Linked DNA regions of Homo sapiens: region 1 is linked to region 2. The links come from fine-mapping of genetic effects on plasma protein levels. A gene starts in region 2. The other region holds a variant in brackets. All regions are shown on one strand. Distances are from middle to middle.

The links. PIP is the posterior inclusion probability: the model's chance that the variant is causal. The UK Biobank Pharma Proteomics Project read protein levels with antibody pairs (Olink). The fine-mapping took linkage between variants from a reference panel, not from the people measured, so its PIPs are less certain.
Region 1: its variant is fine-mapped to the plasma level of the PDGFRB protein (UK Biobank, PIP above 0.99).

Annotation. Positions count from the first base shown.
Region 1 is chr5:150,124,498-150,129,757 of GRCh38, forward strand. PDGFRB (platelet derived growth factor receptor beta) reads right to left here. Exons shown (of 23, transcript NM_002609.4): 10 at 5,260; 11 at 2,023-2,117; 12 at 948-1,080; 13 at 230-334. Among named protein-coding and RNA genes, the nearest start is that of PDGFRB, 29 kb to the right of the region's middle. RefSeq lists an enhancer at 3,293-3,794. The variant G/A (reference allele first, on the strand shown) is at 4,401.
Region 2 is chr5:150,152,502-150,161,825 of GRCh38, forward strand. PDGFRB (platelet derived growth factor receptor beta) reads right to left here and starts at 3,344. Exons shown (of 23, transcript NM_002609.4): 1 at 2,896-3,344. RefSeq lists enhancers at 64-584, 585-1,104, 5,262-6,050, 7,569-7,638, 8,425-9,324.

The sequences.
Region 1 (5,260 bases), 30 kb before region 2:
CTCTGAGGAGGGGAAGAGGCCAGGGTAGGGGGAAGCAGGCCGAGGAGGCCAGGGAGAGGAACGCTCTTTCCCAAACCAGACCCAGACTCGGGAGCAGTGCCTGCTGCAGTGTGATGGCCCCTCTAGTGCCTGCAAATCAGCATCAGGCCACCCTGGGAGAGGCTAAGTGTGTGGGGAGGGGCAGGGAGAGGTGAAGGCCCAGATGTGGAGGGCTCCAAGGACTACTCACATTTAAGCATCTTGACGGCCACTTTCATCGTGGCCTGAGAATGGCTCAGGCCATGAGCCGTGGCCTCCACCACCTGCCCAAAGGCCCCAGAGCCGAGGGTGCGTCCTGGTGCAGAGATGATCCATTAGCTCCTGGCCTACCAGGAAGCTGCACCGCTCCCCCAGCTGCCCCCCTCCCCCCACTCCCCTACCCCCGGCCGCTATCACCCTTCCTGCCCAGTGAGGGGAAAGAGCCACTCTCTTAGGTCAACCTAGACATTACTTAAACCACCTTGGACTCAGGATATTCCCTAAACACACTCCTGCAACCACAATACCTCCCTGTCTTTCCTGGTATCTCATCTAAGTCCTGCCTGCTTTCTGCCCCATCTTTAATCTCTGGAAAGTTTCTTCCCTCCCAAGGGAGCACGCTTCTCTGTACCTCCTCAGCTTCCCCAGCCAGACCAGGCCTGCTACTCAGCCTGTCCTCAATCCTTCCACTTTTGCCACATAGGGATCCCGTCTCACAGGGTCACAGGATCATAGAACCTCAATGCTAGGCAGTTCCTGGGGGATGGTCTTGCTCTCATTGTACATAGTAGGAGATGGAGGGCCAGAGAAGGCAAGACACCAGCCCTAGGTCTCATAGCTAGTCATGGCAAGGCTGGGACCAGACCTCAGAGAGTCTTCCCACCCAACTTGAGTCCCCACACTGCCACATGAGGCCTCTCAGGACTGACCCAGCACAAGCTGGTCCCGCGGCAGCTCCCACGTGGAGTCATAGGGCAGCTGCATGGGGTCCACGTAGATGTACTCATGGCCGTCAGAGCTCACAGACTCAATCACCTTCCATCGGATCTCGTAACGTGGCTTCTGGAGGACCAACCCCAGGAATTAGTTATCAGAGGGAGTCTCAGGCCCTGAGCCCCATTAGGTTCGTCCGTCTAGGACACATGGGGCAGGAGACCCTGAGGCCCAGAGAGGGGCAGGGGCATATTTGAAGTCACACAGCAAGTGCTCAACTGAGCCAAGGTCTTCGTGGGCTCGGAGGGAACAGGGACCAAGGGGCCCCAGAGGAGGCTTCAGGACTTGGCAGACTGAGGAGCAACTGGCAGCTGAGGGCCTGGCTCATGAGAACCTCCTCTCTAGCTTCTCTCCCAGCCTTCGCTGCTCCTCAGATGGAAGTAGTAGAGCAGGTGACCCCAGAAAGTGACACCAGGTAGGGTACTCGGCTGGATGCGGATGGCCCTCCCCAGTGCTGGGCAAGTCAGAAAGATGTAAGCTTAGAATGTTGACATCTTAAGGTGTTGGAACCACAGGACTGGAATTTTAGAAAGATGGGATCATGAGGTGCTGTAATCCTGATTCAGGAAGCTTAAAATGTTGGAATCACAGAATGGTAAAATCTCAAAGCAGAACACTGAAATTACAGACTAATAGGATCAGAATGCATTTCAGTAGAATCACAGGTTCTCCATGGGTGAGACCTGGAAGAATCCTGGAGCCCATGCAGTCCACCTCAAAGGTCCCATGCTCCATGGCTAGGATGAGAGGAATGGTGTCTCAGCAGGACCCGGGGACTTAATGACACAGTAGGGGAAGGGAATCCTGGATAGCTCGGGCCAGGCTCAGGTTGGCCCAGACTGCTGGGGGTGGAGGAAGCTGAGACAGCCAGCGTCACAAGTCCCCACCTGAGTTCCATGCTGAGCCCTGCATGTGGCCAGATCACGCAGCATTCAAGGAGGGCAGAGGGGTGGAATTTATGCAAAATAATGATGTGCCAGTCTTCACCCACTGGGCCAGGGAGGGGCTTACCTTCTGCCAAAGCATGATGAGGATGATAAGGGAGATGATGGTGAGCACCACCAGGGCCAGGATGGCTGAGATCACCACCACCTTAAAGGGCAAGGCTGGAGGCAGAGATGAGAGCAGGCCATGAGCAAACTGGGCAGCTACCCTCCCCTCACCCCATCTTTGGCATCATAGATCCCTCCGTACACATCCTGTCCAGAATAGAAGCGCCCACCTCCCCATCAGCCTGCAGTGTCAGACCCTCAGCATCTCGCTCTAGGCCACACGTTCAGACTGTCCTGTAAATACTCCATCCCCTCAGTAACTACCCCCACTCAGATCACTGCTGGCCTCCACGTCCCTTCAGCCCTGCCAGTCAGTCTGGCCTTGCTGCCAGAGCTCTGGACGGGGTGCAAATCCTGTTCTGAGTTCCTGTCCATTGCCTGGACCTCCCATTAGCCCTGGAGCCCCTGAGGGCTGGGTTGTGGCTTACCTCTCCTCTGAGTCCACACCCTTGCTGGGGCTGCCACAGCTCGGTCAGACTCCAAGCTCCATGCCTGACCGAGTGGCCGGTGGACTGAGTGAGTGGCCACTGAGGGAGCAATGGCTGAGACCCCCAGCCTGATGAATCCAGACCTCAGCACGGAGGCCACTTCTCCCCACTTCACCCAAAGGGCCCAGTTGGGGTTGGAGTGGTGACGGTAGTTAACAAAGTGGGGCTCACACTGGCCCTTACAAGCCTCGAGTCTCCTCCACCCTCAAGGCCTCAGCCTCTTCGCTGTACAGCTTCCCACTCTCCTCATCCAGCCCCGCCAGACCTGCCTCTCCCCTGCCCTGCCCTGCTGGCCACCCATGAGGTCCTATGGAACTCATTCCCTCCTCTTCTGTCCCCAATCTATGCTTCTTTGCTCCCTAGGGAGTCCTGTCCCACCTCCTCCTCCCCATCCATTGCTATAACCTCAGTCCCTAAAACCACACCTGGCACATGGTAGGTAGCTGGTACTATTTGTTGAATTACTAAGTGAATGCCATTGTTATGCTTAAAATCTTTGGATGGAGGCTGGGTGCAGTGGCTCATGCCTGTAATCCCAGCACTTTGGGAGGCCAAGGTGGGCGGATCACGAGGTCAGGAGTTCAAGACCGGCCTGGCCAATATGGTGAAATCCCATTTCTACTAAAAATACAAAAAATAGCTGGGCGTGGTGGTGGACTGCTGTCATCCCAGCTATTTGGGAGGCTGAGGCAGGAGAATTGTTTGAACCCGGGAGGCAGAGCTTGCAGTGAGCCGAGATCACACCACTGCACTCCAGCCTGGGCAACAGAGCCAGACTCCATCTTAAAAAAAAAAAAAAAAAAAAAAAAAACTTTGGATGCTTCCCCATGTTATCAGTAAAGGAAAAAGGCCAAACTCCTAAAATGGCACATAAGGCAGAGGCTTCATGACTCTACCTCTGCTTCCCTCTCCAACTTCGTCTCTCACCCCTTATCCATTCTCCCTTACCCTTACCTATCCTCGCCATGCCTTCCTCCTCAGGGTCCCAGACCAACATCCCTCTTCTCCTCCCTCCTCCCGCTCATCACACATCTCGGTCCTGGGAAGGAAGCCTGCATCTTCTAGGCAGCCATCGCTGGAGGCATGAAGGAGCCCTCTTGCAGCCATCCTAGGCCCTGTGTGCTGGTGCTCAGCTTCCCGCTCAGGCTTTAGTCACACAAAAGTGTCACATCTGCCTTGGCTCAGAGCTGGTCTTCCACTCAGGCTGTCCACACTGTCTGCCCAGATACCCACTTGCTCAGAGAATGTGTATGCATGTGTGGGAGCATGGGTGAAATGAGGGGATGAAAGAAGCCCACCCATCCACCACAGGGCAGGGGACAGGAGGCAGCTCTAGACAGGCACGTGCCTGAACATGCCCAGGGACCTGCATACACAGAGACCAAGATGCCTCACATGGCCTTTGGAGCCCTGCCTGCTCTAGATCTGCCGACCCCTGTAGCTCCATCCCATAGCACTTCCTTCCCCTTTATCTGCCACCCTTCCAGCCCCTAAGTATCCACACACTCGATCCTCCAGCCAGATTGAGTTGAACTCTTTTCATTTCTAGGAACTCATTTTGCCTCTGGGCTTTTACACAGGCCATTCCCTCTGAGTGGGACACCATTCCTTACCAGGCTAACTTCTAGTCATTTTTCAGGTTTTCACCTAAAGGTTCCTTTTCTAGAATACTTTCCTGAATCCCATAGCTGGGCATGGGACCCCTTCTCCCTCCAGGCTTTGCCCCTAATGTGGTGATCCCGGAGGGAATTGCCAAGTTCCTTGTCTGCCTTCTCTCTCTGGACTATGGGTACTAGGAGGTCCAGGCAGGGCTGAGCCCTTTGACCTTTATACTTCAATGAGAAGTTGG[G/A]TCCTCATATTTATCGAATGAAGAAGAAAGGTGAATAAATGAAGCACACTCATACAGGTGCATGTATGCATAAGGACGGGCAGCTAGATACACAAAAGCATCAAGACACTGGTAGGCATTGTTCATACGCACAGAAATTACACGTGTATGTGTACCTGCTAACAGATGTACATTGTACAGCAGGCACATGTGTACGGGAATTATGCTTGTACACTTTTCTAGAAAGGTGTGCTCCAATTATATGCTTACAGACATGCACTATGCCAGTTTGCATGCATGCAAAGGAATTGTACATGCATTGCTTGTACACATGTACAGGAATTGTGTACCCACCGGTACATGCATACAGACATACACTGTGGGGTTTAAACAGATGTCTGGGAATTAGGCATGCTCATGTACATGGCTTACAAACACGTGGTGGGTTTACATACATGGACAGGCATAGTGCACAGGTGTATGCTTATACACATACACTCTAGCTTTACAGGAGTGACTGGAGATTGGGCATTCTTCAGTAGACGATTTACATATCTACACACAGAGGATTTGCACCTATGTTCAAGGAACAGGCATGCTCATGTACATGGCTTACGACATACATATAGTATATGTACACCACACTGAAGGATATTCATATCCATGGCTTACAGACTTGTGTTTGTACACGTGTGTACCCATATTGTGTTTGCCAGAATGTGTTCCTATGCATGTACACAACAGGGTTTCACAATGCTCCTGTTTGCCCCTGGGCATGCTAACTCCTTTGGCCTGCTGTGGGTACATGGGCACATTACCAATTAGGCAGGATTAAGGTAGGGATTGGGATCGTCAGGGGCCACTGAGGCTGGGGACTCACA
Region 2 (9,324 bases):
ACCCACTGCCCACTGGGTTCTGAATCAAATGCAAGAAATGGGTGGGCATTTCAGAAGACCTTTTCATCCCTTTCTCCCTTCCCACTGCATTCAGCAGCAGCCTGTTCTGAGCCAATGCCCAGAGCACCCTCCTTTAGCCTAGAAGGCAGCTGGTCTCAGAGTCAGACTGTGGCCTGTGCCTGGAGGATGGACACGGATCTTTGGAACATACATGGTGTCCAGGTCCCTTCTGTGGGCAGAGCCTTTTGCAGGTTGCAGATTAATTTCACAGCCAAGTGTTCCAATGCAGGAGGCCAGGAGAGCAGTGGTTCTCTCAGCCAGTGGCCAGAGGTCCAGCTGTGAAGTGCAGGAACTGTGGTAAGCACCTTGCCAATGCTGTTGTCTCATGGAGCCCACACACGGTCCTGCTGCTCACAGAGAAGGAGATTGAGGCCCAGAGAGGCAAGGTGCTGCCCCGGGGTCACACAGTCAGCCAGAAACTGACTCGGGGTCAATGCATAGTCATCTGATGCCCAAGCCTGGTGCTGGTTACCCACAGCGCTCACTGCCTCCCAGCTGCGGAAGGAGCCCAGAGATGGGATGTGGGGGGTCTGAGGTTGGCCACACGGTGGATTTAAATCAAGCCAGGGCAAGCACTGGGTCTCCTGACTCTGGATCCACGGTGCTTTCCACTGCCTGCCCCACATGTGTGGGCAATTATAAGTCCCAGCTCTTCTTCCCGCAGAGGAGGGGGGCTGCTGATAACTGCTGTCTGGGAGGAGGGTGCTGACCAGATGGTCTCTTTCCTCTCTCAAGACCAAGCCAGGGCCCGGGCAGACCTTGGAGCAGTCAGACCTGAGGCTGCACTTTCTGCTGGGGAAGGTGCTGAAGCCAGGAGCAGGCTCTGCAGGAGGATGGAGATTCTTCCCTCTGACTGGGAGCTTCCCGGGGAGCACGAGGTAAGCCTTTAGAGTCAGGCAGACTTCAGCCTAAACACCACCTTAACTCACCGTATGGCCCTGGGAAAGTCACTTAGCCTCTCCAGATCTCAGCTTCCTCATCTACAAAAAGTAGGTAATAACACTGATTTCAAAAACTTGCCATGAGGACTCCAAGGTGTGTGAAGTACCAGGCTCTATGCCTGCATGAGGTAGGTGTTCAGGGACTGTATGTCCCTGAAGGCTGTGGATTCAGGGTCTCCTGCTTGGAGACAGGGGAGGACTGCATGACTTCAGAACTTGTCACTAGAGGCCTCTGTGCAATTGGGAGGTCACAGAGGGAAGCAGAGATACTCCTCCCTGCTTGCAATGGAGGAATGCTGCCTGGAGTAGCCACACGATGTCCTGGAAGGGCACCTGTGAGAAGGCTGGAGGCCTGGGTTCTAGTCTCACACTTGGGAGCAGAAGGTCTTCAGTGAGCTCCTCCTCCCTTTCACCAGGACATTTTTTCAGCCGCACTGCCTATCCAGGGCTGGGCACTGGGGGAAGAGCACAGGATGGGGAAACCTTAAACCTTTCCCCAGCAGAAAGTGCGGCCTCAGTTCTGACTGCTGGGGCCTGAACAATCTCTGATGAACAAACAGAACATAAACAGATCACCAACAGGGGAGGGCCAAGTAACATGGCTTCAGCACAAAGTGCATGGCTAGCACTTGGAAGACAGGAAGAACCTAGGAAGGCTGCCTGGAAGAGGTGGTGTATGGAATATCCCTGAAAGAAAAGTGATGAGGAAGGGCATTCCAGAAAGGGGGAAGAGGGAGGGCAAATGCCCACAAGCAGGATGGTGCGCATTCCTTCTGGGAATTCTGGGATCTGACTGGCGGGAACAAAAGGCCCAAGTTTGGAGTAATGGGGCACGGGGAGATTCCAACCTCTCCAGGCTGTGCCACTTACTAGCTGTGTGGCTACAGTTATGTGGCTGCGTGAGCCTCAAGTTCCTCATGTATAAAACGGAGGTAAAAACAGTCACTGCCTCTGGGGTTGCTGGTGAGCATTACATGAGATCAGTCTCATAAAGCACTCAGCACAGTTGCGGCGTGCAGTAAGTGTCAAGCAGTGGCAGCCTCTGTTAGGAGCTGGGACTTTCTCCAGGCACTGGGGAGCCATAGGCGGATCCTGGGCAGGGAGGTGGTGTGATTGGATTTATGCTTTAGAATGGCATGGAGAAGGGGTAGAGTCCAGAAGGAGGGAGACAACGAGGAGGCCTGAGCAGCTGCCTGGGACCAAAGGAAATGGCCCAGTGGCTGACCCCTTCTTCACAGAGGAGCCCCCAGATCTGACAGCCAGGTCCCAGCCCCCAGACCCAGCAGCATGACCGCTAGGGGGTTGCCATGGCCGCCCATCACCCTCGAACTTTCCTAGCCCTCAAACTTTTCTAGCTGCTGGGGGTTTAGAAGGATATCTTAAGAATCTAGAAAATTTGCAAATCCATTTAAATCCCCAGAGGTTGCCTGGCGGCTGACTGGCCTAAAGCCAGACTGATTCTTAGAAACAAGGCTTGGGCCAAGGAACAGCGGCTATGGTCCTGAGGTCCCCAGTCCCCTGCTTTCTGTGTACCCTGCCTACCTTCTCCCAATTCCCCTCTCCCGCTCTTCCCAGCTCTCCCCACTCCCCATTGACTGTGCTGTGCTTTGGAGGCCCCCAGTCAGCACCCAGAAACCCCTGAGGATTGTTTGATGAAGGCAGGAGCAGCAGGGATGATGAGGTGGAGGCCACTCACCCCAGAGCAGGGGAAAGGAGAAAACTGGCTCCTCCATCCCTGACATCACCCACAGTCTCCCAGCCTCCTCTCATCTTGTTTTGTTAAAAATATCTTCCCTTTTTTTTTTTTTTTTTTTTTTTACCTACTCGAAGAGATGCAGGTTAGGGCAAAGGGACAGGGCATGGGGCTGGGGTTCCCACTTTTTCCAGCACTTACCTTGCTGCTGATGGCTTCTGGTGTGGGCACAGTTCCAGGCTCTGGACAGTCACCCCCTCCAGGAAGTCCTCCTTACTGCCCTCTCCCAGTTATCAGAAAGACTGCTGGTCCCAGAGTGGGTAACAGCTGAGTAGAAGGACAGGCAGGACTGGTGCAGGCTCCTGAAGGCTCAGGAGAACAGAGGGATGGAGGAAGGGGGCTGCTGTAGGGGAGAGGAGCGGCCCAGCTTCGCCTCACTCCCCAAGCATCCTTCGGGAGGAGCAGAGCCGCCAGAGGGGCCGCCCTGGGTCTGGCTGTCTGCGTTGGGCAGGGCGAGCACAGGCTGCTGCTGGGCAGCAGGGCTGAGGGGCCGGCTCTCTCCTCCTCCTTGTTGATCTCCTCTCTGGCTCCAAGTTGCTCACAGAGCGATCCTGGGTCCCAGATAGGGCGGGCAGTCACTGCTGGCTGCTGGCAGCCTCAGGAGCTCACACCACTATGGGCTTCCATGCCCCCCCACTTCCCCCGCCACTTTGGGGGAAAGGCTGCAGGGTGGCTTCTGATTGGCCCAGCTGGGAGAAGGGGGGGCGGCGGGGCAGGGAGGGTGGACGCGTGCGTCTGTTTTCAATTTCAGTTTTTTTCCCCCTCTCTCTTTCTTTTCCCCCAAGTTTCTTGTTTTTCTTCTTTTCACTCTGCTTACTCCCTCCCATCGCCCGTTCGCTCAGGATGTGAGGGGATGCTTAGAAATTCCACAGCCCACGCCAGCCGCCAGCTGCTGAGTCACTTTTGTCAAAGAGTGGCCTCGGCCCCACTTTCCCGATGCCCATGTCGGGTGGCGGCCTCCCCTTGCCATGGCACCCAGGGAGATCATTTCTCAGTGCCTCAGTTTCCCCATCTGTAAAGGAGACTCTGATCATCTCTGTGGTTGATTCAGTCAACCTTCATTCATTGAACAAGCATACTGAGCATTTACTACATTCTAACACTGTACTGGGTGCAGGGGACAGTAGCAAGACGTGGTCCTGACCTCAGAAGCACCAGGCTAGTGAGCAAGATATTCATTGGGCAAGCAGGTGCCCGGTCGGCAGACAGGAGGCTGAGAGTGCATTTAGAAGGACCCCTAACGGAAGCCTGAGAGAATCAGAGAGCACTGCTGAGAAGAGGTGACATGGAGGAGATGGAAAGATCCTCCAAGATGATCAGCCGTTTTTCAGAAGGACAAACCAAGGCCCAGGGGTGAATTGGCACAGAGAGGGAATGTGATTTGGTCAAGGTCATCCAGCACAGATTGGATATCTCTGGATATTGACAGATACATTCCTTTTCACGTCTCAAAGCCCCTGGGGTGCAAGGAGAGGATTATTTGCCCCATTTTATAGATGGGGACACTGAGGCCCAGAGGAGCAAAATAAGCTTCCCAAGCTTACGCAGCAATGGCAGAGCTGGGGCAGAACTAGGTCTCATGAGACACATGATGGAAGAGACACAAGTCATCTGACCCCCACCCGAGACCCCTATTCCAGTGTAGATGAACCCCCTGCCCTGCTTTCTTCCTAGGTTCCCCCTGTGGCTCTTTCATTCAGTCACTCAACAAGATACTTTCTTTTTTTTTTTTTTTTTTTTTTTGAGATGGAGTCTTGCTCTGTCTCCCAGGCTGGAGTGCAATGGCGCAGTCTAGGCTCACTGCAACCTCCGCCTCCCAGGTTCAAGTGACTCTCCTGCCTCAGACTCCCAAGTAGCTGGGATTACAGGCGCACACCACCACACCTGGCTATTTTTGTATTTTTTGTAGAGACCGGGTTTCACTATGTTGGCCAGGCTGGTCTCAAACCCCTGACTTCATGATCCACCCACCTCAGCCTCCCAAAGTGCTGGGATTACAGGCTTGAGCCACCGCACCCAGCCTCAACAAGATACTTTCAAGTATCCGTTTTGTTCCATTTCCATTCTCTGGCTCTCCTTTCCTACCAGGGTCTGCCAAGACTCCTCCAGTTCCCCCAGCTGGGTCTCTTCTTCCACCCTCAGCTTCTCAGATCAGAAGACATCTCCAGTTACAGACTCCTAGCCCTCAGATGGCAAAGGGCATTATTTTAGAAGGGCATATAGAGTGGGCTTACCACCCCTGCTCCCACTACTGCACCCACAGGGCAACTGAATTCCAGAGGGTGAAGAAAGCTGTCCCAGGTGACACAGGTAGAGGCTGGCTCTGCCCTCCTTCCCTCTGCGCCGCTAAGTCTTTCCTCCTCAGCTTCCCCCAGACCCCTGTTCACAGAGCAGAGGATTTGCGTGAGCTGGGATTCCATGCCCACCACAGTCAACTATCTTGCATTTCTTGGTCTAGTCCCAATCGGGATTGCCCAGCAGAGCATCTGGGCTGGACCACATAGAAGGAGAAGTGTTCTCAGACTGGTTCCCAGCCACGGGTTGGGGACCATAAGAGTACCCCGAGAGAGGGGGCCTGGCCAGGTCTTTGTGGCAACAGGGAAATAGGGGAATGTGAAAAGATCCCACAGGCCACAAGGTCAGGCTTGCACAGGGATTTCTTGTGCCCAAAGATTCCGTCAGAAATTTACGACTCCCCTCCTAGCATCTGCCTGGGCCATTCACCTCTGAATCCTTGGCTGACCCTCTGCAGCCAGGCCAGCCTGGGGGAGGCCACGAGACACACCAACCCCCTAGTCCCCAAAGAAGCTAGTCTGGGAGTCAGAAGACCCAGCCACAGACTTATCAGGAGAACTTGAATAAGTCCCTTGCCCTGCCTGAGCCTCGGTTTCCCTATTTGTACATAACAGTTGTGGACTCACTGTGCTACAAGGCCCTTGGGATGGTCCGTCTGCAATTTCCCTTAGAGCTGGACTCTAGCAAGGGAGAGGAGGCTGGTGGGCCCTAGGGCAGGGGTACAGCTGGGGCCAGAGATGCAGCACAAAGGGGAGGGGCAGTTGGCGGTGGCTCCCCTGGGAAGCTGGCGGCCTCCAGTTTCCGGCCAGCCCAGCCGTCCTGAGGCCCATCTGGAATTACTTAGCCCCTACTGCCATTAACCCTTGGTGGGCACCAGGACTGTCACTCCTCCTCTCAACTGAGATATGGGTGGGAGGTGCAGAGCTACAGGGAGCAACCCAGGGCACTCACCAAGGGGCAAAATTGTCATGATTGACAGAGGAGGTTGGAGAGCTAGAGATAGAGCTGGGTTCGAATCCCAGCTGCTCCAGTTTCAAGCTACATGAGCTTAGGCAAGTCACTTAAACTCCTGGCCTTGGTTTCCTCCTCTGGAAAATGGAGACAAGTCAAAGACTGATTCATAAGACTCTTCGGTTTGTACAAAGGACTTAGTACATTGCCTCGAAGTGTACTAAGTGTACACTATTACTGAAATAGTGAGTTTCCTCATTCGAGCAGCATTCCATCACTGTGTCTTCCTGGGCGGAGCCTCCCTTTTCTGGGTCTTGGATTCCCCTTGTGCACTCTGCCTTCAGCGGCAATGGACGGGGCACATGGGCAGTGCAGCACCATCACCCTGGGGTGGTCAGCATGGCCCCCAGCCCCACTGTGGACAGGACAAGCTATGAACATCCTCACACCTACACAGATACTGGGAACCCAGTCCAGCCTTGGACAATGCTGTCTTGGGGAAGCCTGGGCTGAGAGTAGGTGGGCAGAGCATGGAATGTGGGGAGCCCTGCCTGAAGTGGACTGGGATGGGGTACAGTGGGAGAGGGGGGCTCTGGGCCTTAGGGTTCCACACTGCCTTCCCCCACAGCACGGTGGCACACTCAAGAGTTAAATGTCTGGACTCTGATGTTGGCAGCTCCAACCCAGCTCCACCACTTCCCAGCCATGTGACGCTGGGAGATGATATGACCTGAGCTCTCTGAGCCTCAGTACCTTCAACTGTGAAATGGGGACACATGTGCCTACCTCACAGGGTTGTGGAGAGACCTGAATAAGCCATGCCCACAGGCATTTTGTCAAGCCTCGAGCAAAACAAGAAAGTGCCACAAAAGGTGACTGATCCAGCTGGGCGCGGTGGCTCACGTCTATAATCCCAGCACTTTGGGAGGCCAAGGTGGGTGGATCACCTGAGGTCAGGAGTTTGAGACCAGCCTGGCCAACATGGAGAAACCCAGTCTCCACTAAAAATACAAAATTAGCTGGGTGTGGTGGTGCATGCCTGTAATCCCAGCTACTCGGGAGGCTGAGGCCAGAGAATTGCTTGAACCCGGGAGGCAGACGTTGTGGTGAGCTGAGATGGCGCCATTGCACTCCAGTCTGGGCAACAAGAGTGAAACTCCATCTCAAAAAAAAAAAAAAAGGTGACTGATCCTCAGGTGTTACCAAGAGCTGCTGTCATAGAAGTCCACCATCAGGGCTGGAGGGAAGCTCACCAACATGCTCATTACACAGCCGGTATGACTGAGGCCAGTGATGGAAAGGAACTTGTGCAAGGCCTTGTGATGTGTCAGCCACAGACTGGGACTGGAACCGAGGCTTTCTGTCTAGACTCATAAGCCCATGCTCTTCCCCAGAGGAGGGAACCAGGCTGAACAGACCCCCGTGCTAAGACCCCCCTCCCCCACCCACGCTTGTCAGAGCCGGAAGTTGCTGCTCTCAGTGGGGCAGGGGGAGGGAACCGGAAAGGGAGCCTGAGTGGGAGAATTCCCAGGAGGCCGCTCAGCCCTCACTCAGGCAGGGCAGCGGCCACCACATCTGGCTCTCCCACGCTCCTGGCTCTGCCCCCACTCCCAGGCTCCCCAGGCAGAGTTGTGGGGTGGGGGTGGGGGGTGATGAGGAAGCAGCACACATACCCCAGGCGCTCACACAGTCATCTTAGACGTCAGGACCCTAAGATATGTCCCTTCTGCTGGCATGGACACTGAGGCCCAGAGAGTGGAGGGGACTTGTCTGAGGTTCACGGTGGGGCTGAGGGAAGCTAGAATACAGGACTCCTGATCCCCAGCTCAGTGTCCTTCCACCCATGCATGCCCTGAGCAGAGCACGTAGATCCTTGTGCCTGTGGCTGGGGAGCCAGAGAGGCACAGAGTGGGAACTGTCCCCCTACCTCCTGGACACTCAGTGTAGTGGCTTTCTGAGTGGGCAAAAGACCAGCAGGGGCCTTGGGCCACATTCCCTCCCTAGATTCTTAGGACTGTCTTACTGAGCCAGACTGTAGCCACCGAGGTCTGCCAGGGTCCCAGGAGATAAAGGCTTCAAGACACTGCCCATTCAGCCTCTCCTTGCCCCCTTGCTGGCCTCCCTCTCAGCCCCAGGACCGTGGGCAACTTGAGTGTGTCCATCTGGTACACGCAGATGGCTCATAGATCCCCAGAAGAGCAGGGCCCTCACCCTCACTGAATACACTGGCTCCTAAGGTCTGGAGAGCACCAGAACTTTTTTGAGGGCACACAGCAGGCCTAGGGTGGGGCCTCTCCATCTAACACCCAGTTATCACTAAGATAACTGTTCCTCCAACCATCCATCCATGCGATAGAAGTTAATTGAGGACCTACTATGTGCCCTGTCCTCCTGTCCTCACAGAGTTCACAAGCAAACACCGAGGAAACCACAAATTAATAATATCAAATTGTGATGAGTGTGATGAAAGAGACAAAGAGAATAATGAGCTGGGTGGATGGGAGTTCTTGTTCAGGTACAATAGGGCTTCTGTGGGGAGGAAGCAGGCCTGTGAGGCCACACACATTCAGGAGTAGGAACAGTGTTCGAGGCAGGGGGAAAAGCATCTGCAAAAGCTTGGAGGCCAGAGAGATCTTGATGGGTTCGAACAAAGAGAAAAGAATGGTTGAGGCAGAGAGCCGGCAGTGGGATGGAAGATTGGAGAGGTGGTCAGTGGCCAGGCATCAGGGCTTTGTGGGCTCGAGGGAGTCTGACTTTTATCCTGAGGGTCAGTAGGGGCCACTGCAGGATTTTAAACAGGGGACTGATGAGACCAGGTCACCCAAGTGCACTGTGGAGGATGGACGAAAGGGGGCAGGAGGGAGGCATGGGACGAGTGTGGAGGCTGCAGTGGCCGATCATGGACTGAACACTGCACACACACACACCCGTACTCCGTGCTGCCCCCAACTCTTTATCCACCTGAGAGGCTGCAGGAATGCATCTCAACAGGGAGTTTGGGCTTCTGTGTCCCAGCCTGTGCCTGGCCACTTGACTCACAGTATGGCCTTTTTCCTTCCCTGGCCTCTGTACCCTCCTCAGCACGGTGGGTCAGACACAGTGCTTCTCTGATAAGGACATCTATGCCCTGGGCCTCTGGTTCTAGCATCCCCTCTACTACCTAAGTGTCTGTGTCCTGGGGACTGCCACCCTTCCCTACCCCTCTGTTTCCCTAGGATAATCAGTGGCATCCGGGCATTACTGAGACAAGGCAACAGTACGGCGAGTCCTCCAGCAGTACCCAGGAGTGCCAGCAGGTGGCGGCCCCAGCCCCTGGAGGGGTAG